Homo sapiens: one gene and its partners. The protein of the gene in region 1 interacts with the protein of each later gene in a pairwise test. Each region holds a gene or a part of one and is shown in the gene's direction. Other genes may lie near its edges.

What was found.
Region 2: the proteins of ZBED1 (region 1) and FAM124B interact in binary tests that used the Homo sapiens proteins (3 or more experiments, as listed by UniProt).
Region 3: the proteins of ZBED1 (region 1) and GGACT interact in binary tests that used the Homo sapiens proteins (3 or more experiments, as listed by UniProt).
Region 4: the proteins of ZBED1 (region 1) and EFHC1 interact in binary tests that used the Homo sapiens proteins (3 or more experiments, as listed by UniProt).
Region 5: the proteins of ZBED1 (region 1) and NTAQ1 interact in binary tests that used the Homo sapiens proteins (3 or more experiments, as listed by UniProt).
Region 6: the proteins of ZBED1 (region 1) and TRIML2 interact in binary tests that used the Homo sapiens proteins (3 or more experiments, as listed by UniProt).
Region 7: the proteins of ZBED1 (region 1) and MKKS interact in binary tests that used the Homo sapiens proteins (3 or more experiments, as listed by UniProt).

The regions. Positions count from the first base shown.
Region 1 is NC_000023.11:2,488,456-2,490,976, reverse strand, and holds part of ZBED1 (E3 SUMO-protein ligase ZBED1), read left to right. Parts: intron 1-204; 5' UTR 205-257; coding exon 258-2,342; 3' UTR 2,343-2,521.
Region 2 is NC_000002.12:224,392,108-224,395,607, reverse strand, and holds part of FAM124B (protein FAM124B), read left to right. Parts: intron 1-3,500.
Region 3 is NC_000013.11:100,578,790-100,582,289, reverse strand, and holds part of GGACT (gamma-glutamylaminecyclotransferase), read left to right. Parts: intron 1-3,500. UniProt on the Homo sapiens protein: Contributes to degradation of proteins cross-linked by transglutaminases by degrading the cross-link between a lysine and a glutamic acid residue. Catalyzes the formation of 5-oxo-L-proline from L-gamma-glutamyl-L-epsilon-lysine.
Region 4 is NC_000006.12:52,440,842-52,444,341, forward strand, and holds part of EFHC1 (EF-hand domain-containing protein 1), read left to right. Parts: intron 1-3,500. UniProt on the Homo sapiens protein: Microtubule inner protein (MIP) part of the dynein-decorated doublet microtubules (DMTs) in cilia axoneme, which is required for motile cilia beating.
Region 5 is NC_000008.11:123,426,774-123,430,273, forward strand, and holds part of NTAQ1 (protein N-terminal glutamine amidohydrolase), read left to right. Parts: intron 1-1,150; coding exon 1,151-1,250; intron 1,251-3,209; coding exon 3,210-3,260; intron 3,261-3,500. UniProt on the Homo sapiens protein: Mediates the side-chain deamidation of N-terminal glutamine residues to glutamate, an important step in N-end rule pathway of protein degradation.
Region 6 is NC_000004.12:188,103,104-188,106,603, reverse strand, and holds part of TRIML2 (probable E3 ubiquitin-protein ligase TRIML2), read left to right. Parts: intron 1-593; exon of another isoform or gene 594-1,013; 5' UTR 1,014-1,235; coding exon 1,236-1,424; intron 1,425-1,671; coding exon 1,672-1,767; intron 1,768-3,500.
Region 7 is NC_000020.11:10,403,223-10,406,722, reverse strand, and holds part of MKKS (molecular chaperone MKKS), read left to right. Parts: intron 1-1,035; coding exon 1,036-1,476; 3' UTR 1,477-3,500. UniProt on the Homo sapiens protein: Probable molecular chaperone that assists the folding of proteins upon ATP hydrolysis. Plays a role in the assembly of BBSome, a complex involved in ciliogenesis regulating transports vesicles to the cilia.

The DNA.
Region 1 (2,521 bases):
TTAACGTGGAAGAAAGAGCGTATTCCTGCGCTAGGTTCCCTCCTCCACTCTGCAAAAGTGACCCGCAAGGAAGGTCCAGCCGTCCGGCCCCAGTGCCCTTTGGTTGAAAGCGGAGCTGCCCCGGCACCCTGTCTGTCTCCCCGGCAGGGCTCCCGTGCGTGCCTGGGTCCCTTCTCATGCTGTGTTTGTCTTGGCCCTTCTCAGCAGGTCCCCACGCATGAGCAGCCGTCCAGCAGGCAGGCTCCGGTGGAGAAGCAATGGAGAATAAAAGCCTGGAGAGCTCCCAGACAGACCTGAAGCTGGTGGCCCACCCCCGCGCCAAGAGCAAGGTGTGGAAGTATTTCGGCTTCGACACCAACGCCGAGGGATGCATCCTGCAGTGGAAGAAAATCTACTGCCGCATCTGCATGGCCCAGATCGCCTACTCCGGAAACACCTCCAACCTGTCCTACCACCTGGAGAAGAACCACCCCGAGGAATTCTGCGAGTTCGTCAAGAGCAACACGGAGCAGATGCGTGAAGCCTTCGCCACCGCCTTCTCCAAGCTGAAGCCCGAGTCGTCCCAGCAGCCCGGGCAGGACGCGCTGGCCGTCAAGGCCGGCCACGGCTACGACAGCAAGAAGCAGCAGGAGCTGACGGCCGCCGTGCTGGGCCTCATCTGCGAGGGGCTGTACCCAGCCTCCATCGTGGACGAGCCCACCTTCAAGGTGCTGCTGAAGACGGCCGACCCCCGGTATGAGCTGCCCAGCCGGAAGTACATCTCTACCAAGGCCATCCCTGAGAAGTACGGGGCCGTCCGGGAGGTGATCCTGAAGGAGCTGGCCGAGGCCACCTGGTGTGGCATCTCCACCGACATGTGGAGGAGTGAGAATCAGAACCGCGCCTACGTCACGCTGGCCGCCCACTTCCTGGGCCTGGGCGCCCCCAACTGCCTGTCCATGGGCTCCCGCTGCCTGAAGACCTTCGAGGTGCCCGAAGAGAACACGGCGGAGACCATCACGCGAGTGCTCTATGAGGTCTTCATCGAGTGGGGCATCAGCGCCAAGGTCTTCGGGGCCACCACCAACTATGGCAAGGACATCGTGAAGGCGTGCTCCCTGCTGGACGTCGCAGTGCACATGCCCTGCCTGGGCCACACCTTCAATGCCGGCATCCAGCAGGCCTTCCAGCTCCCGAAGCTGGGGGCGCTGCTGTCGCGCTGCCGCAAACTGGTGGAGTACTTCCAGCAGTCTGCCGTGGCCATGTACATGCTCTATGAGAAGCAGAAGCAGCAGAACGTGGCCCACTGCATGCTGGTGAGCAACCGCGTCTCCTGGTGGGGGAGCACGCTGGCCATGCTGCAGCGCCTCAAGGAGCAGCAGTTCGTCATCGCCGGGGTCTTGGTGGAGGACAGCAACAACCACCACCTCATGCTGGAGGCCAGCGAGTGGGCCACCATCGAGGGGCTGGTGGAGCTCCTGCAGCCCTTCAAGCAGGTGGCCGAGATGCTGTCGGCCTCCAGGTACCCCACCATCAGCATGGTGAAGCCGCTGCTGCACATGCTCCTGAACACCACGCTCAACATCAAGGAGACCGACTCCAAGGAGCTCAGCATGGCCAAGGAGGTCATCGCCAAGGAGCTTTCCAAGACCTACCAGGAGACGCCCGAGATCGACATGTTTCTCAACGTGGCCACCTTCCTGGACCCCCGCTACAAGAGGCTGCCCTTCCTCTCCGCCTTCGAGCGGCAGCAGGTGGAGAATCGCGTGGTGGAAGAGGCCAAGGGCCTGCTGGACAAGGTCAAAGACGGCGGCTACCGGCCGGCTGAGGACAAGATCTTCCCGGTGCCCGAGGAGCCTCCCGTCAAGAAGCTCATGCGGACATCCACGCCGCCGCCCGCCAGCGTCATCAACAACATGCTGGCCGAGATCTTCTGCCAGACAGGCGGCGTGGAGGACCAGGAAGAGTGGCATGCCCAGGTGGTGGAGGAGCTGAGCAACTTCAAGTCCCAGAAGGTGCTTGGCCTCAACGAAGACCCCCTCAAGTGGTGGTCAGACCGCCTGGCCCTCTTCCCCCTGCTGCCCAAGGTGCTGCAGAAGTACTGGTGCGTGACGGCCACGCGCGTCGCCCCTGAGCGTCTCTTCGGATCCGCCGCCAACGTGGTCAGCGCCAAGAGGAACCGGCTGGCTCCCGCGCACGTGGACGAGCAGGTGTTTCTGTATGAGAACGCCCGGAGTGGGGCAGAGGCGGAACCCGAGGACCAGGACGAGGGGGAGTGGGGCCTGGACCAGGAGCAGGTGTTCTCCTTGGGGGATGGCGTCAGCGGCGGTTTCTTTGGCATTAGGGACAGCAGCTTCCTGTAGCGAGGAAGCGTGTTGTCTTACAAGTCATCCCCGCAGCAGCCCATTGGATGCTTTGCTGTAAATACTTACCCGGTCAGCTTGGTTTTGAACCTCAGAGACCATCCACTGTCTTTGACACCTAGAAGGTGGAAAAAGGAAAGAGATTTGAGAAGTGAGAGAGGGTCGGGGGCGGTGGCTCC
Region 2 (3,500 bases), on another chromosome or scaffold:
TTGGCAGTTTTAATTCTGCTGTCTCAATTCTTAGTGGGTGCAAAATGATAGTGGGTTCAACCTTCCCTTTATTCGTTCAAACAGTCCCTCTGCTTTTCTCCCTGTGCTTTTGCCTCTGGTGGTAGTGACAGTGTCAGTGTGTTCTGGGGGAAGGTAGCATGGGTGATGATGTCCGCCTCTTTTTTTAAACCTCCTGCAACTTAAACTGTGCCCTCAGTCAAATTAGCTATTTTGTCAAATCAACCACATGCTGCAGTATCTCTAGTCAACTACTGCTGGCTTTCAGCTTTCCACAGCTGAGACCCGTGTCCAAAGTTGTATTTTTTGTACTTTTTATAGATTTTTTTTCAATTTTTTGCATTATGGCTCTTCTCCCCTGATTCACCTGCTGATGCATTCATCTCCTGCCCTCCTCCTGGCAGGGGCAATCCAAGGGTAGAGTCCATGACTTTGGTGTCAGGCTCTGGCAGACTCTAAATTCCAGGTCACTGAGTTAGCATTGGTGATCTTCTCATTCTGTTTGATGTACAGTAGGCAAACTTTATAAATTAAATGATAAACCTCCCTCAAAGCCACTTGAAACGCTCAGCAAGGTCTATATTTCATGGCCCTGTGGGAGATGTGACAGCCATGATCTTGTTAGCCTTTGGGTGGGTGTTCTGTGTGGTATCACACTGCCCTGGTGGTCTAATGAGGAGCTGGACCCTCCTGCAAGCGCCTGCAGTACCAGGCAGCCTGCAGGAAATGCACTGTAGAGCTGCAGCCACCCACCTTGTGTGTAGGGAAGGAGAAGGTGAAATTGACTGAGGATGTCAAGTAACATGGAGGAAGTGTGACTTGGGGGATTGACTGAATGGGCTGTAGCAAAGTATAGGGCTGGAGAGTTCAAAGGAGTTTAGAGAATTTTTTGTGCACTGAAAATGGGTGCAGGAGGACACAAAATGGGATTTGAAGAAATCCATTTATTACGGTGTTTAGAGAAGGGGCAGACATGCTCATACCTATAATATATAATTTAGGACCATAATCCTGTTAGCATCAAATAGGACAGGTTGGAAGGGGGCTTGACTGACCACTTCAGAGGGGACTTCAGTTTTCCAGTCAAAGCCGGTGCAGTTTTGAAATAGGGAACTCATAATGGAAATAGGAGGTTAAATTGCATGGGTAGACTTGACTGAATTTGGCAGTAATTGGACATGGAGGGTGAAGAAGAGGAAGGTGATGATGAGTCTGGACACATTGGGCTTGAAGTGCTTGCAGGTCTTTCAAATGAAGAGATTCCATGGTCAGGTGGTCTCTGAGGGCTGGAACTCAGGAGGGGGCATGGGCTAGGGGCATAGGTGGAGTTGGTGGCTGAAGCCCTGGAAAGGATCAACATTACCAAGGAAGAGAGTGTAGAGAGAGAAGAGGTAAAGAGAGTGCCTGGAAAATGCGTGCACTTCCGGAGGAGAGGGAAGAAGAACCAGTGAGAGACGCTGAGAAGAAGCAACCACAAAGCCAGGAGGACGAGGAGATTGTGGTGTCATGGAAGTCAATGTCGCTTGGTGGCTTTCAGTCCCTAAGATGTGGCTTCTCAGGTGTGCTACAGCAGGTCCTTCAGGTTCTGTCCTGGTCTCCTCACTGGGCCCCCAGTTGCTTGTGTGTTGCCATTGCCCCTGGAGAGATCAGCACCTGCTGCAGGCCCTGTGTCCTCCACCAGTAACTGCTGCTACCACCACTCCGGGCTTATGGAACCGTCCCCAAACACTGCTGAGACCAAGCTGTAATTTCAACAAGATCTTTCTGAAGAGTTGAGGACAAAGAGGTGGGGAAAAACCCCCCAAAGAATTCTAGGCCAGAAGAATAACTTACAAGTACTTCTAGATGTCGCTATTCTCAGAGCTCCCAGGCAAGCTATGGCCTTGAGGTCCCTCCCAGGTCTCCTCCAAGTCTTCTTTACCCACTTCTCCTGGAGGTGCTCCAGGCCAAACTCACACAGTGAAGGAGGATGGTTTTCTCCCTTCTCTCTGAGGTCCACCTTCCAGGTCTTCTTTCCTTGATAAGGGTGACTGCTTCCCAAGTTGACTAAATGGGAAAGGTCACACACACCTCGCCTCCCACCACCATTGTTTGATGTTCAGTAGGAAAACTTTATAAATTACAAGATAAAACCTCCCTGGAAGCTAGAGAGGTTTTAGAATAGGGTGGTGTCCTATTCTTGCAACCTGGGCAGGACAGATAAGTAACAGAACAAGAGTACAACATCAGTACAGTCTGGGGTGTACCATCTCAACAACACATGTTGGTTGCCGGCCATCCATTCTGGAGGCTTTTCCTGACTTAATCATAGGGATGAGCTGAAACTCATGCCTGTGTATCCTTCTTGCAGTCCTGGGGCCTCACCTCTGGATCTCCTGCAATCAGCACCTGAGCTAGAATCCACATAACTCTCCAAGACAGCCATGTGGGAGAAAGTCATGTGATTTTGAAAGATTTGGTTTCACACATATGCTCTCAATGTAGACCCATTTCTCAACTGAGACCCATTTCTCTAGACGAATGCACTGTCCTCTAGGACTTTCTGTGATGATGAAAATATTCTGTATCTGTGCTATTCGATACGGTGGCCATTCGCCACATGTGGCTACTGAGCATTAGAAATATGGCTGGTGAGACTGATGAACAGAATTATTAATTTTATTATATTTTAACAATTTAAATGGCCTTATGTGGTTGGTGACTGCTGTATTGGACTGCCCTGGCCTAGGTTATTTCTAAGGTCTCCTGCATCTTGAAGCTTCTGTAACTATACTGTGTATAGCCTCGTTGGTGACAAAACTTTATCTCTTATCTCATCTGTTGTTTTTTTTTTTTGAGACAGAGTCTTGGTCTGTTGCCCAGACTGAAGTGCAGTAGTGTGATCTCGGCTCATTGCAACCTCCCTCTCCCAGGCTCAAGCTATCCTCCTGCCTCAGTCTCTGGAGTAGCTGGGACTACAGATGTGCACCATCATGCCCGGCTAATTTTTGTATTTTTTGTAGAGACCGGGTTTTGCCATGTTGCCCAGGCTGGTCTCAAACTCCTGAGCTTAAGTGATCAGCCAGCCTCAGCATCCTAAAGTGCTGGGATTACAGGCATGAGCCACCATGCCTGGCCTATCTCATCTTTTTTCTTTGCTTTTTTAGAGAGAGGGTCTGATCCTGTCACCCAGGTTGGAGCATTAGTGGCATGATCATAGCTCACTGCAGCTTTAAACTCTTGGGTTCTAGTGATCTTCTCATTTCAGCCTCCTGAGTAGCTGAAACTCTAGGCGTGCATTACCATGCCTGGATAAGTTTTTAATGTTTTGTAGAGATGGGAGTCTTGCTATGTTGCCCAGTCTGAACTTGAACTCCTGGTCTCAAGGAATCTTCCTGCCTTGGCCTCAAAGTACTGTGATAACAGGCATGTGAGCCACCGTGCCAGCGCCAAATCCTCATCTCTTAAGGGTAGAATTCAGTTCAATTTTTGGAAACAATCAA
Region 3 (3,500 bases), on another chromosome or scaffold:
TAGGTCATCATAAGTTTTGAAGTTCCTCCCAACAGTAAGAGGAAGTTATGGTCAGATTTATTGCCCCAAATCTGAAATCAGCTGTTTCTCCAAGGAGCCCTGGTTAGCTGTTTTAAAGTGAAAAATGGTACTTAAAGGCCATAATCTGGCCCTAATAAGGTGCTCATTGCTGTTGGATTGGCAGTTGTTTTTAAGCCATTTCAACAGACAGAGACAGGGAAAACCATTGTTCAAGATAAAATATTTCATGAGCGCATACTGGTAACATCCAAGTCTTTTTCTGGACTACAACGTTTTTGCTTAATGTCATAGAACTTATATCCATACCCCTTTCTTCCACTCCAGAAATCTCAGTTCAGAACAACCCAGCATAATTTATTATTTGCTTTAGCCCTCACCCCACAGAGTCACTGCCACAGGGGTGTGGGGATTGGGAGGAAGACCATGGAGATAAAGTGTCATTTTTGCTACATCGTATCAAGCACACATACTGTCTACATGACTTCTCTCTTTTGCTGTTGATCTTGATTACCTGACTGAAATAGTGATTGGCAGGTTTCTCCACTGTAAAGTCACACTTTCCCCCTCCCTTCATACTGTGCTCTGAAAGGAAGTCACAGTGAGCAGCCTGCACTTCTGAAGGGAGGAGTTATTTAGGCTTCATCTCCTTAAGGGGAAAGTGTCTACATATGTTATTTGGAATTCTTCCGTGCAGGAGGGTTATCTGTTTTCTTGCATTTATTTACTCAGCCATTTATATCATTATGGACTCACAGATACTTATATTATACTTTAGGTTCTAATCCAATACTCCTTATTTTGTTCTCCAGTTGTTCCTGCTTTGGCCATTGGGAGCCTGTTCCATTGTCTCTTGTGTCCTTTCAACTTGTCCCATCTTTGTGGGCTGGTGGGTTTGTTTATTTTTGAGCACTTCCTTGCTTTCCAATATTGCTAGATGCCCTAGATTGATCTTGTGTATTTCCTGCTTCAGTCTTAGGTTCAGCCGTTTCTCTGGGGAACCCTGGTCCCCTCTGTTGGAGATGGTGTTAGAAACCACAAGCTGGATGCTGGTGTGCTCATTTCGACTGTGGTGGCATTGCTTTTAGGTCCTCTCAGCTGATGGAGCAAGGAAATGTCTGTGTGTACTGACCTGTGTATATACACATATCACTAAATACTTCTGTATGGAACCATTTGTTTCTGTGAGTCCACACTGGTGTCTCCAGCCCTAATCCTTTACCCCGTGGATCACTCTTGCGTTTTCCCTGCTGTCTCTCACCTCCCATTCCAACAGTGAGAAACGTGGCTCCCATTGCCTGTGGCACATTTGCCTACTTGTTCAGTACATATGTGTGTATCACAGTGTTGGAATTGCCATCTCGCCCTATGGGAACCACTTAAACAACGAGAGCCCGGTTTTTATGAATATACACAGTTCCTTTTGCCTTTAGTCTTGTAACTGTAGACTGGGCCAACAGGTGAAAGTTTCTTTGGGCAGGCTGAAATGAGATCCTACTACCTTGAGAACATCTTAACAGTCAGATCTACAGGGTGCAGATTTCATAGCTTCCCCCTGGCAGTTCTTCCATCACTTGTGAGCCCTGGCTGTTTTATTCTGCCTAAGCCAAGGCAGCCTTTGCTATCCTGACTTGACACAGAAGAGTTACTTAGTAACTGTGTTCATTTGCTAGGGCTTCCATAGCAAATTACCACAAACTGGGAAGCTTAAGACAACAAAAATTTATTCTCTGCTCACAGAATCCAAAACCAGAAATCAAGGTGCTGTCAGGGCTGCCCTCCCTCCAAAGGCTGTATGGAAAGTCCTTCCCTACCTTTTTCAGCTTCTGGCGGCTCCAGGCGTTCTGCGGCAAGTGGTCGCACACCTCCCGGCTCTGCTGTGTCTTCACATGGCCCCCTCCTCGGTGTCTGTCTTCTGTCCCTCATAAGGATATTTGCCATTGGATTCAGGGCCCGTGTAGATTGCCCAGGATGATCTCATCTCAGCTTCCCTAATTAATCACATGTGCAAAGTCCCTTTGCCGTGCGAGGTGCCATAGTCAAAAGTTCCAGGGATTAGGGCATGGACATGTTTGCTGGGGACCTTTGTTCTGTCAGCCTCACTTTGTGATGCAGCAGCAGTCGCAGGATCAGAGCAGATCCCCAGGCATTTTTGGCAGAGTAAGACCAGGTGCCAATCCCCGAGGTGTGTTTCTGCTGCTCTTATACACCGAGGCAGACCCATCAGGTCTAGACCCAGCAGGCCCCTCTTTCCTCAGCGCTGAAGGGAGGGGGCTTTGGGCTGACAGGAGACCTAAGTTCCACGTGTGAATTCCATCAGCAGAACGGTGCTCAGAACCTTCTGATTCACTCTGTAGGGGCAGAAAGGGGGTGATCCCTCTCTACCCTGTCATAAGGGTCATGGCTGACACCCCAATGACAAAGATTAACAATAGAAAAGCAAAACGTGTTCAATCATAGTTTTAAATGACATAGGAGCTTTCAGAATGAAGACCCAGAGACCCAGGGTGAACTCTCCAGATTTTGCTTAGATGTGAAGAAGCACAGACCGCCATGTGGAAATTCATTTGGAAAAAAGGGTGTGAGCTGATGGAAATAGACCGAGTAGGGAAGCCCAGCAAGGCCTGTCTCCTCAGGTTCTTCTTGGCCTCTCTGTTGTAGCATTTCTTCCTTCCAGGAATGGGGTAGGACCCTCTGGAATGAGGGTCTCATTGTCCAAGGTCTTTATGGCCAGCTGTTATACAGAAAGGCATGGGGAAGGCTAGAGAGTAGTATTTTTAGGTTTTATGGCTGGCTTTGGGGAAAGGGGTTCTGGTTCCTGTCACCTGCACTGGGGAAGAGAAGTTCTGGATCCTGTGGTTTGTCTTGGGGGAGGATGAGAGGGGCAAGACACACGCAGGAGAAAGTCAGAGAGACTGAGCTGCTGAACCCCTCAACTCCTAGGCCCTCCTCTCCCCACAGCTGTGGGTACTCCTGCCTCCGTACCCTGGGGGTGGTTTTGCTGCAGTTGCTCTTTTATTTGAATTTCATGTTATTTTGTCTTGCATAATTAATTGTTTTTGCATGCTAGCCTAAACACTGCAGGGCTGTGAGCTCTGATTGGGTGAGAACCATGCCTTCCTCATTCGGAGTCCGCCATCATGCCTTCCACATAGTGGGCACCCAGTAAGAAAGAACTCATTTCCAGCTAGTCGAGAGTGTTTTTACAGAACTGATGTTCTGAGTCAGGCCAGAGTAAATTAGAGTAAGGAAGAGTATATGCGGGAATACTCCCCATATTATGCTGTGTTCCTGTCCATTTTTCAAATGACCACATTTACTTTTCAAGCTTTTGAGTGTTAATTACCTCTTCCTGCTGTTGTCATCTGTACTTGGGAGTACGAGGCAGGTAAGTTAAAGAAAATTAATATTTTTACATCTCATGATGGTTTTATTAACTTTCCAGCATTAAATGAGGTTTGAAAAGTGTTCTTTGAGCCATT
Region 4 (3,500 bases), on another chromosome or scaffold:
ATGATATTTCATTGTGGTTTTGATTTGCATTTCTCTAATGATAGTGATGTTGAGCTTTTTTTTCATATGGTTATTGGCCATGTGTATGTCTTCTTTTGAGAAGTGTCTGTTCATGTCCTTTGCCCACTTTTTAATGGGGTTCTTTGCTTTTTTTCTTGTAAATTAAAGTTTCTTATAGATGGTGCATATTGGACCTTTGTCAGATGCATAGTTTGCAAATATTTCTTTCCCATTCTTTAGATAGTCTTTTTACTCTGTTGATGCTTTCTTTTGCTCTGCGGAAGCTCTTACGTTTAATTAGATACCATTTGTCAATTTTTGCTTTTGTTGTGATTGCTTTTGGTGTCTTTGTCATGAAATCTTTGCCCATTCCTATGTTTAGAATAGTGTTGCCTTGGTTGTCTTCCAGGGTGTTTATAGTTTTGGGTTTTACATTTAAGTCTTTTATCTATCTTGAGTTGATTTTTATATCTGGTGTAAGATATATGGCTAGCATATGGCTAGCAGGTTATCCCAGCACCTTTCCCCATTGCTTATTTTTGTCAACTTTGTTGAAGATCACATAATTATAGGTGTGTAGCCTTATTTCTGAGCTCCCTATTCTATTCCATTGGTCTATGTGTCTGTTTTTGTACCAGTACTGTACTGTTTTGGTTACTGTAGCCCTGTAGTATAGTTTGAAGGCAGGTAACATGATGCCTCCAGCTTTGTTCTTTTGCTTAGAATTGCCTTGACTATTCAGGCTCTTTTTGGGTACCATTGAATTTTAAAGTATTTTTTTCTAGTTCTGTGAAGAGTGTCACTGGCAATTTGATAGGAATAGCATTGAATCTGTACATTGCTTTGGGCAGTATGGTGACTGTAAAGATATTGATTTTTCGTATCCATGAGCATGTAATGTTTTTTCATTTGCTTGTGTTATCTCTGATTTCCTTAAGCAGTGTTTTGTAATTCTCATTGTAGAGATCTTTCATCTCCCTGGTTAGCTGTATTCCTAGGTATCTTATTCTTTTTGTGACAGTTGTAAATGGGATTGTGTTCCTGATTTTACTCTCAGCTTGGCTGTTGTTGGTGTATAGGAGTGCTAGTGATTTTTGTATGTTGATTTTGTGTCCTAAAATTTTGCCGAAGTTGTTTATTAACTTAAGGAGTTTTTGGGATGAGGCTCTGGAGTTTTCTAGATATAGAATCATGTTTTCTCCAAACAGGGATAGTTTGACTTTCTCTCTTCCTACTTGGATGTCCTTCATTTCTTTCTCTTGACTGATTGTTCTGGCCAAGACTTCCAATATTGTCTTGGATAGAAGTTGTGGAAGAGGGCATCCTTTTCTTGTGTCAGTTTTCAAGAGGAATGCTTCCAGCTTTTCCCTGTTCAATATAATGTTGGCTGTGGGTTTTTCATAGATGGCTCTGATTATTTTGAGGTGTGTTCCTTTAATACCTAGTTTATTTATTTATTTATTTTATTATTATACTTTAAGTTATGGGGTACATGCGCACAACGTGCAGGTTTGTTGCATATGTATACATGTGCCATGTTGGTGTGCTGTACCCATTAATTTGTCATTCAATTAGGTATATCTCCTAGTGGTATCCCTCCCCACACCCCCCACCCTATGACAGGCCCCAGTATGTGATGTTCCCCACCCTGTGTCCAAGTGTTCTCATTGTTCAATTCCCACCTATGAGTGAGAATATGCAGTGTTTGGTTTTCTGTCCTTGCGATAGTTTGCTCAGAATGATGGTTTCCAGCTTCATCCATGTCCCTACAAAGGACATGAGCTCATCATTTTTTATGGCTGCATAGTATTCCATGGTGTATATGTGCCACATTTTCTTAATCCAGTCTATCATTGTTGGACATTTGGGTTGGTTCCAAGTCTTTGCTATTGTGAATAGTGCCGCAATAAACATATGTGTGCATGTGACTTTATAGCAGCATGATTTATAATCCTTTGGGTATATGCCCAGTAATGGGATGGCTGGGTCATATGGTATTTCTTGTTCTGGATCCTTGAGGAATCACCACACTGTCTTCCACAATGGTTGAATTAGTTTACATTCCCACCAACAGTGTAAAAGCATTCCTATTTCTCCACATCCTCTCCAGCACCTGTTGTTTCCTGACTTTTTAATGATCTCCATGCTAACTGGCATGAGATGTGTGGTTTTGATTTGCATTTCTCTGATGGCCAGTGATGATGAGCATTTTTTCACGTATCTGTTGGCTGCATAAATGTCTTCTTTTGAGAAGTGTCTGTTCATATCCTTCGCCCACTTTTTGATGGGGTTGTTTTATTTTTTCTTGTAAATTTGTTTAAGTTCTTTGTAGATTCTGGATATTAGCCCTTTGTCAGATGGGTAGATTGTAAAAATTTTCTCCCATTCTGTAGGTTGCCTGTTCACTCAGATGGTAGTTTATTTTGCTGTGCAGAAGCTCTTTAGTTTAATTACATCCCATTGGTCAATTTTGGCTTTTGTTGCCATTGCTTTTGGTGTTTTAGTCATGAAGTCCTTGCCCATGCCTATGTCCTGAATGGTATTACCTAGGTTTTCTTCTAGGGTGTTTATGGTTTTAGGTCTAACATTTAAGTCTTTAATCCATCTTGAATTAATTTTTGTATAAGGTGTAAGGAAGGGATCCAGTTTCAGCTTTCTACATATGGCTAGCCAGTTTTCCCAGCACCATTTATTAAATAGGGAATCCTTTCCCCATTGCTTGTTTTTCTCAGGTTTGTCAAAGATCAGATGGTTGTAGATGTGTGGTATTATTTCCGAGGGCTCTGTTCTGTTCCATTGGTCTATATCTCTGTTTTGGTACCAGTACCATGTTGTTTTGGTTACTGTAGCCTTGTACTATAGTTTGAAGTCAGGTAGCGTGATGCCTCCAGCTTTGTTCTTTTGGCTTAGGATTGTCTTGGCAATGCAGACTCTTTTTTGGTTCCATATGAACTTTAAAGTAATTTTTTCCAATTCTGTGAAGAAAGTCATTGGTAGCTTGATGGGGATGGCATTGAGTCTATAAATTACCTTGTGCAGTATGGCCATTTTCACAATATTGATTCTTCCTACCCATGAGTATGGAATGTTCTTCCATTTGTTTGTGTCCTCTTTTATTTCATTGAGCAGTGGTTTGTAGTTCTCCTTGAAGAGGTCCTTCATGTCCCTTGTAAGTTGGATTCCTAGGCATTTTATTCTCTTTGAAGCAATTGTGAATGGGAGTTCACTCATGATTTGGCTCTCTGTTTGTCTGTTATTGGTGTATAAGAATGCTTGTGATTTTCGCACATTGATTTTGTATCCTGAGACTTTGCTGAAGTTGCTTATCAGCTTAAGGAGATTTTGGGCTGAGAGGATAGGGTTTTCTAAATATACAATCATGTCATCTGCAAACAGGAACAATTTGACTTCCTCTTTTCCTAATTGAATACCCTTTATTTCTTTCTCTTGCCTGATTGCCCTGGCCAGAACTTCCAACACTCTGTTGAATAGGAGTGGTG
Region 5 (3,500 bases), on another chromosome or scaffold:
ACATGGTGAAACACCATCTCTACTAAAAATACAAAAGTTAGCTGGGTGTGGTGCTGCACGCCTGTAATCCCAGCTACTCAGGAGGCTGAGGCATGACAATCACTTGAACCTGAGAAGTGGAGGTTGCAGTGAGCCGAGATCACACCACTGCACTCCATCCTGGGCAGTGAAGTAAGACTCTGTCTCCAAAAATAAATAAATAAAAAAAATAAAATTATGTCCCTTTCTTACTAGAGGGGCATGGGGAATCCCACTCACAGGGATTCCCCCAAATGAGTTCCCGGACATATCACATAATTGCTCCTGATTCTTTCCAGCCAGGAGGCTTTCAACCCAAAACACCCATCCTGCCCCATTTCTAAAGAGAGCAGGGAACCAGTGTTAACTAAGATTTTTGTGTGTTTACAGTATATGATTATGCCCATTTTACACATGAGAAAAGCAGATTCTTGGAGAAGTCAAGATGGTCAAAGCTTTTTTTTTTTTTTTTTTTTTTGAGTTGGAGTCTTGCTCTGTTGTCCAGGCTAGAGTGCAGTGGTGTGATCTTTGGCTCACTGCAACTTCTGTCTCTCAGGTTCGAGCAATTCTCCTGCCTCAGCCTCCCAAGTAGCCGGGATTACAGGCACCCGCCACCATGCCTGGCTAATTTTAGTATTTTTAGTAGAGACGGGGTTTCACCATATTGGTCAGGCTGGTCTCTCTGCCAGGCTGGTCTCGAACTCCTGACCTCGTGATCCGCCCGCCTCGGCCTCCCAAAGTGCTGGGATTACTGGCCTGAGCCACCACGCCTGGCCTTTGTCAAAGGTTCTTACCTTGTAAGTGGCTGAGTTAGAATTTCAGCTGTATTACAAGTTGCTGGGCCCAAAACTCATAGAATATTGACATATTTTATCAGTTATAAAATGCCTCCATGTACAAGCACTGCTAGGGGAGGTAATTAGCTCTGTGTGGAGAGGGGTTTACACACAGTATAGGTTGAATACCAGCTTGTTGGGATGTTTTAGAGGAGATTCAGACATTAGCCAGTTGTTGGATGACATGGGGTTTAAGGTCTTTTCCAACTTTTTGATGTCATCATCAGTATTTTGTTCAAATTTAAAAGACACATAGAATGTTCTCTAATCTTGATTAAACAATTATTTTATTTCAGTGAAGAAAATATTTGGAAGCTCTGTGAATACATCAAAAACCATGACCAGTATCCTTTAGAAGAATGTTATGCTGTCTTCATATCTAATGAGAGGAAGATGGTAAGTTGGTGAGTGATTGCAGAAAGAAAACAAGAGATTTAGGATGACATTAGAAGCTAAATTAAAAAAAAAAAAGCTAAATATAGCATGGGTGTAGTACTCTTCTGAAGTGTGCTTTATTAAATACAGCAACATTTAAAAGCTTGCTTTTGAATGAGATTTTTTTCCTTACAAGGCACGATTGAGTTAGAAGAGTTGAGTCCCTTCTGTCGCCCAGGCTGGAGTGCAGTGGCGTGATTCTTGGCTCACTGCAACCTCCACCTCCCGGGTTCAAGCGATTCTCCTGCCTCAGCCTCCCAAGTAGCTGAGACTACAGGCATGTGCCACCACGCCCAGCTAATTTTTGTATTTTTTAGTAGAGATGGGGTTTTGCTATGTTGGCCAGGCTGGTCTCGAACTCCTGGCCTCAAGTGATCCTCCCACCTCAGCCCCCCAAAGTGCTGGGAGTACAGGTGTGAGCCACCATGCCCAGCTTAGTCCCTTACTTTAGGTAAGGAAATATGTGATGGTCTACGCAGATAAAGTCCCTTTTCTTTAGGTATCAATGTAGACCTGTTTTTTTTTGTTTGTTTGTTTGTTTTTTCTTTTATTTTTTGGTACGGAGTCTCACTCTGTTGCCCAGGCTATAGCACAATGGTGTGATCTCGGCTCACTGCAACCTCTGCCTCCCAGGTTCAAGTGATTTTTGTGTCTCAGGCTCCCAAGTAGCTGGGACTACAGGTGTCCCACCACGATGGCCGGCTAATTTTTGTATTTTCAGTAGAGACAGGCTTTCTCCATGTTGGCCAGTCTGGTCTCGAACTCCTAACCTCAGGTGACCTGTCTGCCTTGGCCTCCCAATGTGGTGGGATTACCAGCATGAGCCACTGTGCCTGGCCATTTTTTTTTCTTTTTTTAAATTCAAGATGGAAGATGTAGACTTTTTAAAAATTGCTTAGAGACGCATACTCTCAGTTTTAAAGTAAGGATTTGTCTCTGGAGTTTAAATAGAACTACAGTCAACTTACATGAAGAATTAGAAAAAGTAAGCCCTTCATATTTTGTAAAACACATTTGCAGGCATCATCTCATTTGATCCCAATGGAAGCCCTGTGAAGCAGGCAATATTTGGACAAGTTTCTTCATTTTATAGATGAAGAGATTAAGACTTAGGGTGGCCCTATGAATAATTAAATGGGAGAGCAAGATTTGATACCTGCCAGGACTTCTGATTCCTAGTTCAGATCCCTTTTCACTCTCCAAAGACCATCATACAATAACTAGTGCTCTTGAGAGCTTTCATTGTTGGGGATACTTAGAAGGATTTCGATTTCTTCCTCTTCATTCATTCCTTCACCTTGATTTTTGCATGCTTAAAAATATTTTATTTCTCATGTATGTATTGCTTTAAATAGTAGTAGCCAGGTACAGTGACACGTGCCTGTAGTCCCAGCTACTTGTGAGGCGGCTGAGGCGGGCAGATCTCTTGAAGCCAAGAGTTCAAGGCTGCAGTATACTATGATGGCACCTGTGAGTAGCCACTGCACTCCAGCCAGGGCAGCATCACAAGATCCTGTCTTGGCCAGGTGCGGTGGCTCACGCCTATAATCCCAGCACTTTGGGAGGCTGAGGTGGGCAGATCACTTGAGATCAGGAGTTCGAGACCAGCCTGGCCAACATGATGAAACCTTGTGTCAAAACCCTTCATCAAAAAATAAAAATAAAAAATTAGCTGGGTGTGGTGGCACACGCCTGTAATCCCAGCTACTTGGGAAACTGAGGCAGGAGAATTGCTTGAACCCGGGAGGTGGAGGTTGCAGTAAGCCCAGATTGTGCCACTGCACTCCAGCCTGGGTGACAGAGCAGGACTCTGTCTCAAAAAAAAAAAAAAAAAATCCCGTCTCAAAAAAAAAAAAAGGAAAATAATTTAGTAGTGGTTTAACTAAAGGTATGGCTTACGAAATGTATTGTATTTTGTAGATACCTATCTGGAAACAACAGGCGAGACCTGGAGATGGACCTGTGATCTGGGTAAGACAGTTAATACAGAGAGTATTGACGCATTATGACTTGTAACCCCTTAGTGTTCTGTATGTTTTGGTAAAGCAGAAGTGACCTAAGCAGTAGAGAAAGGCTATGGTAATTATTAATAAATTGACCTTTTGAGAATAGATGTTATTTGATCTAAGGTAGAAACACTGTAGGCATATTTTCTTTTAACTTTTTGTTTTGAAATTATTATAGGAATGATTTTAAATGGTGGATATATTT
Region 6 (3,500 bases), on another chromosome or scaffold:
TCACCTGGAGGGCGTGTAGCTCCGGGGCGCGGACCAAGAACTGCATGTTGGTGACTGAACCGCGGTTCCGGCTGCCGCCCCCGCGAAGATGGAGTCAAAGAGGAAGGAGCGAGGGCGCTCACGGCCAGACCGCGGGCAGCGCGTCACGTCACTCCTGAAATTTTATTTCGGAAACAATTATTGAGAAGAGTGGCTTTGGCTTCACTGTTTTGCAAATCTCTTTAATTGATGGCTTCTTAGAAGAGCCGTTTTCGGCCGGGCGCGGTGGCTCACGCCTGGAATCCCAGCACTTTGGGAGGCCGAGGCGGGTGGATCACGAGGTCAGGAGATCGAGACCATCCTGGCTAACACGGTGAAACCCCGTCTCTACTACAAAAATACAAAAAATTAGCCGGGCGAGGTGGCGGGCGCCTGAAGTCCCAGCTACTCGGGAGGCTGAGGCAGGAGAATGGCGGGAACCCGGGAGGCGGAGCTTGCAGGGAGCCGAGATCGCGCCACCGCACTCCAGCCTGGGTGACAGAGCGAGACTCCGTCTCAAAAAAAAAAAAAGAGGAGCTGTTTTCCCTTATTTGCTTCCCCATTCCTTCTGTTGCATGTGTTTTGTCCCAGCTGTAGTCCCAGCTACTCCGGAAGCTGAGGTGGGAGGATCGCTGGAGCCTGGGAGTTCCAGAGGCTGCAGTGAGCCGTGGTCACGCCACTGTACTCTAGACTGGGCAACAGAGCAAGACCCTGTCTCTCAAAGGGAAAGTATTTTAATAACTTTTTCAGATACTTGTGGTTTTTTTCTGTAATTCTATCAACGAACCTCTTTCGCACTCTGTTACCTCACTCTAGTCCTGAAGTTCCTTCAGTAATTAGCGCGATGCCTTTAGAGCACTGTTTTCCCCTGAATGACTCGTAAGTGAGTGCTGTTCCTTGTAATTAATTTTCAGCCTATTGCTCAAGATTGTCAGAAGACCTGAGGGAAACCCGCTGGTCTTAGAACACTGGCCTAACTCTGTCTTTTCCCCAAGCAGGCAGCTGCCAGAAATTTGTTGGATTTGAGGAGTCCAGAGCGCCGACCCGCTCTGTCTGCGTGGACTTATTTCCTTGGATCTTCGTGGACTCTGAAGTTGCCAAGTGTGTGTGCCTGCTCCAGAAAACAAAGGAAGCCACCATTTTTTCTCATTCACAGTGCAGGGAGATACCTCAGTAGAAGCATACAGTCCAGTCTTCAACTAGGGACCCCTACCAGGATGTCCAAAAGGCTCAGCCCTCAGTTACAGCACAACATCACAGAAGATGCCTATTGTGAAACACACCTGGAACCAACACGGCTGTTCTGTGATGTTGACCAAATCACACTCTGCAGCAAATGCTTCCAGTCCCAGGAGCACAAACATCACATGGTGTGTGGGATACAAGAGGCTGCTGAGAATTACAGGGTAAGAGTCACTCACGCAAATCCCAAAACACTCTGGCCAACTCCTATATGGATGAAATGGACAGACATTCTGGTCCTCCAAAACCATTACCTTAGTTGATGTTTATTACAGAATATTAGATAAGTTCGTTGAACCTTCAACCTAAAGGCTAAGAAAATATATACTCAGAGTTGTTGGCTGTTTAAGGTCAGGAATCCAACTGTTCTAAATCAATGATCTCACCTGGAATTCTGTGCTTTCTCTATAGAAGTTATTCCAGGAAATATTGAACACATCGAGGGAGAAACTTGAAGCAGCTAAAAGCATATTGACTGATGAGCAAGAAAGAATGGCGATGATTCAGGTCAGTGAGTGCTTATCTTGATTCTTGGGGGGAAATTACCAGTAATGTTGTTAGAAAATAGTGTATCATAAACAAAGTCAAAAGACAAATCACAAAGCAGGAAAAATGTGAAATCTATAGGAAGGAAAAGTGCTAATATCTTAATGTATAAAAAGCTCTTTAAAGTCAGTAAGAAGCTGGGTGTGGTGGCTCACGCCTGTAATCCCAGCACTTTGGGAAGCTGAGGAGGGCGGATCACTTGAGGTCAGGAGTTTGAGACCAGCCTGGCCAACATGGTGAAACCCCATCTCTACTAAAAATACAAAAATTAGCTGGGTGTGGTTGCACGAGCCTGTAATCCCAGCTACTCGGGAGGCTGAGGCAGGAGAATCGCTTGAACTGGGAGGCAGAGGTTGCAGTGAGCCGAGATCACACTACTGGACTCCAGCCTAGGCCACAGAGCAAGACTCCATCTCAAAAAAAATAAAAATAAAAAAAGTCAGTAAGGAAAAGACTAGAAATTTAATTTTAAAAAACGATCAAATAAGAGTTTGCAGAAAAGAAAGTAAATATATTTTAAATACATTGAAAGAATTTGAACTTTGTTCGTGGTAAGAGAAATACAAATTATATGGTGAGTAAAATGGCATTTGCAATGCTATTTGCAATGATCAAAAAGATTAACGACACCGTTTATAACAATGACATAGGAGAATGAGCATCTCTTGTACTTCTGGTTGCCACATAAATTCTAAAACCCTTTAAAGAGCAATTTGAGAATAGCTATTCAGATTTGAGGGTTCACCACCTGTTAGGCATATTTCACTTCTAATTTCAGCCTGTATCTTCATACTTAATCCTATTCTGTGCAAGGTATCCCCGATTCTGGGTCTTTTCTCTCCCTCAATTTTTAAAGGAAATAAATGCCTACTTAGGGAAGATAGTGGAGGAGAATTGCCTGGCTAGGTAAGGATTTTTCAACCGATCCCCCTTCTTTTTCAGTTCCAAGTACCATGTGTTCAGCAAATACTGAGATCCCACTGTTTGCCAGGGACTATGCAAGGTGCTAGGGGCTCACCAATGGAAAACAAAAAAAACCAGCTCTGCTTTCGTGGAACTTGCATTCTAGTGGATATAAACAAAATAAGTTTAATATATAGTATGTTACCTGGGAAGTGTTTAAAAAAATTTTTTTTAAGTGAGAAAGGAAGCAATGGAGTGAGCTTGTAAATAAAGTGATCAGAACCTTGTTATTCAGAAGGTGGCACTGAAGGAGGTGGGGGATTGGGCCATGCAGTTTTCTTGGGGAGGAATATTCTAGGCAGAGGAAAGGCCTGGAGGCTGCCGTGTATGTGGCTGGAGCTGTGTAAGGAAACGGGGGCTGTAGGTGATGAGATCAGAAGAAGGCGGTCAGTCATTTAGGGTGGCAGCCTTCAATGAAATACAAGCTTCAAAACCACTGGAAGGTTTCGAACAGAAGGCTGACATGATTTAACTTCCATTTTCATAGAAACACGCTAGCTGCCAAATGAAAATAGACATTAAGATAGTAAAAGCAGGCTGGTCGTGGTGGCTCATGCCTGTAATCCCAGCACTTTGGGAGGCCGAGGCGGGCGGATCACGAGGTCAGGAGATCGAGACCATCCTGGCTAACACGGTGAAACCCCGTCTCTACTAAAAAATCGGGTGTGGTGGCAGGTGCCTGTAGTCCCAGCTACTCAGGTGACTGAGGCAGGAGAATGGCATGAACTTTG
Region 7 (3,500 bases), on another chromosome or scaffold:
TGTCTTGAGTAGGAAAGTAGTCACTGTTTTTAAGCAGTTAAGATATGGATTTTTTAACCCATCATTCAGTTATTAGTTTGCTAATACAGACATGTTGCTTAACAAAGATATATTCTGAGAAATGCATCATTAGACAATATTGTTGTGCAAACAATATAGAGTGTACTTGCACAAACCTACATGGTAGAGCCTACCACACTCCTAAGCTATGTGGTATAGCCTATTGCTCCTAGGCTACAAACCCTTACAGCATATTACTGTACTGAATACTGTAGGTAATTGTAACACAATGGTATTTATGTATCTAAACATATCAACACACAGAAAAGGTTAGTAAAAATATGGCCTTATAATCTTATGGGACCACTGTTGTATATGCAGTCTATCATTGACTGAAGTGTTGGTATGTGGTGCATGGCTATATATTAATTTTTCTTTTTATCATGGAATTTCTAGGATAAACATTTTTAAATAGTGGAACCAGAAGACTGTTTAAGGTCTTATTACCTTTTCATTAATTTAAAGAGAAGAATATTCATTTTTAAAACATTGATATGAAAATTTACATCATGATTTCCAAATAAAAATATGTGCATTCCCATTTTAAGCAAATCTCAAACATTTTGCAGAGATAAATAAGTACTCCATTTGGGACATCAGTCTTCAGGAACTTCCTCCTGTGTGCAGAAAAACCTGTAATACATGTATTATGCCTAGTCCTTCATGTATTAAGGAGGCACTACCAAGCCTCATTCAGAATAAGCTGATGGTGGGGTTATTCTGATTCACTCATTCTGGTAACATGACTGGTAGTATATACATTTTTAATACATTTTTACTATAACCAACCTAGTTAAGGGTTTGCAACCCGGCCGGCTGACCCATACAAGCCCGTTAGCATTGTGCCAGACCCCAAATTAAATGAAAGTAAGTAATTACTTTAGGAATAAGATTTTGATTTCAGTATCTTATTTTTCTGAAACATTTTATATTAATTGCTTTGTATGTGTTTTCAATGTTTTTATTACTCTTTAGACTCACAACGACCCAGAAAGCATTCTCAAAGATGATGAATGTACTCAAACAGAACTTCAATTAATTGCTGAAGCATTTTGCAGTGCCCTAGAATCTGTTGTTGGCTCTTTAGAACATGATGGAGGTGAAATTCTCACTGACATGAAGTATGGACACCTTTGGTCAGTTCAGGCAGATTCTCCCTGTGTTGCTAACTGGCCAGATTTGCTTTCACAGTGTGGCTGTGGATTATACAATAGCCAGGAAGAACTCAACTGGTCTTTCTTAAGAAGCACACGTCGTCCATTTGTGCCACAAAGCTGCCTTCCACATGAAGCTGTGGGCTCAGCCAGCAACCTGACCTTGGACTGTTTGACTGCAAAGCTTAGTGGCCTACAGGTGGCTGTAGAGACAGCCAATTTGATTTTGGATCTTTCATATGTTATTGAAGATAAAAACTAAGAGAATAGCATGTTCGTATTACAAGAGAAACAAATAAACTAGTCTGTTGGCAATTGAGAAAAATTGTGAGTGTATTTGTTTTCTCCCAAAGCCCTGTTCTACATATTTGGACAAATGACTCATAAAATTATAGATACACTTATTTAGGAAAAAAGGTGATTCGTGAATGGAAATGCCATGAAACAATAAAAATATGAAGCATTATTTATTTAAAAATATTATAGTTATCTTAGGGATTCTATACTGGCTGCTGTACATTGTTCTAAATTTTTGTTATGTTGGCATCATTTTGAGAGCAAACAAATAAAAAAGACTCCTAATCCATGCTCTAGTTTGGATATACATATTTTAGATATTTTCCAGTTAGCAGTAATTACATATGCTTAAAGTATAAAACTAGATCTCAAAGTGTCACAAAACATTCAGTATATATTGCTCAATCAAAAGAAGTATTCAAACTGCACATTTAGTAAAATTTCACTTTTCTCCATGCCCTTTATCTCAAGCTATATTCTTCAGTGGTTAGGTAATTGAGTAGAACCTGGTTTGCCTGCAATTTGTAGTTTATATCACAACTCCACATTTTTGTTATTTTGGGGAAATGTTTGCTTTTGGGGGGAAAAAGTAGATTTATATAGTAACCAAGGCTAAAGCAACATTGTAATGTCTTCATTTTTAAAGTGGGAAGAAGGACTGGTTTGTTTTACACTGGGGTTTCTCAACTTTGGCATTATTGACATTCTGAGCCCCATAATTCTTTGTTGTACGGAGGCTGCCCTGTGCATTACAGCTTACTGAGCAGCATCCCTGGCCTCTGCACACTAGATGCCAGTAGCACCCTCCTGTTGTGACAACCAAAAATGTTTCCAGACATTGCCAAATGTCCCCCGAAGAGCAAAACTGTTGTTGGTTGAGAACCATAGACTGATAGAAAAAGGAAGGACAATAAGGAGTATTCTAGCAGGACTTCAGAAAGCAGCATAAAGGGAAGGGGAAGTTATTTCTCTAGTCAATAGTATGAAAAAGAAAGTAGAAAATCTCCCATGTTCAAAGTAGAGACATTATGTTTCACCAAGGGATGTAGTTTGAATTTTATGCAAATATAAGATGTATTGATAAATTGAAGAAGAAATATAGAAGGCAGCCACATGAATAAGCATGGAGCTATAACAAATGTTGTATTAAACTTTAGGAAAATATTTTGGAAATTTTTGGGAAACAAACCAACCTAATAGTCAATGATCAGATCTATAGCCATGATAAAGAGAAATAGAATTGTTAAACAATTTCCTCTGATATTCTTGTAATCAAAAAGAATTTTTACTCTGAGCCAAAGGAAAAAACTAGCAATACAAGCAGCAATGCCATCCATATATGTTAGGTATCAGCCCCACCTGAAGTCTCATAAAATATTTATCAAAAGTTTTACTCCTTTTATTATTACAATCAAATAGAAGGGCAGTGTGGTAGGCAGCCTCTAAGGTGGCCCCACCTCCTAGTTTCAGACCTTGCATAATTTCCTCCCCTTGAGCATGGGCTAGACTTAGTGACTCCTTTATGTCTCCCATTTCCCAGCTTTGTGGACAGAATGTTATGGTGATGGTTATGGTTATGCCTTATCCATAATTTTATGCTGTGAGTAGAAGGCAGATAACTTTTCTCTAGTTTCATGGGTCTACAGATGGAAAGCAACTGTGTTCCAGGAACTGTACTTAAAGAACTACCTCCTGAGGAAGCCTGGGGTGATTCCAGTTATGATATCACCCTGACTTGATTCCAATTATGAGATTCTGAACTTTGAGCTGATGTTGTAATGCAAAAGTGAAACTTTTGAGGATCTGAGGAGTAGGGGGGACGTATTTTGCATGTGGTAGGCAGCCTCTAAGATGGTTCCCAATAATCTCACTTCCTGGTGGTTCACTCTCTGGGTGTAGGTGGGACCTAATGACTAGCTTCTAATGAATAGAATACAGCAGAAGGGACAGGATATCACTTCTGATATTTGGTGGTAAAAAGATGAGTTT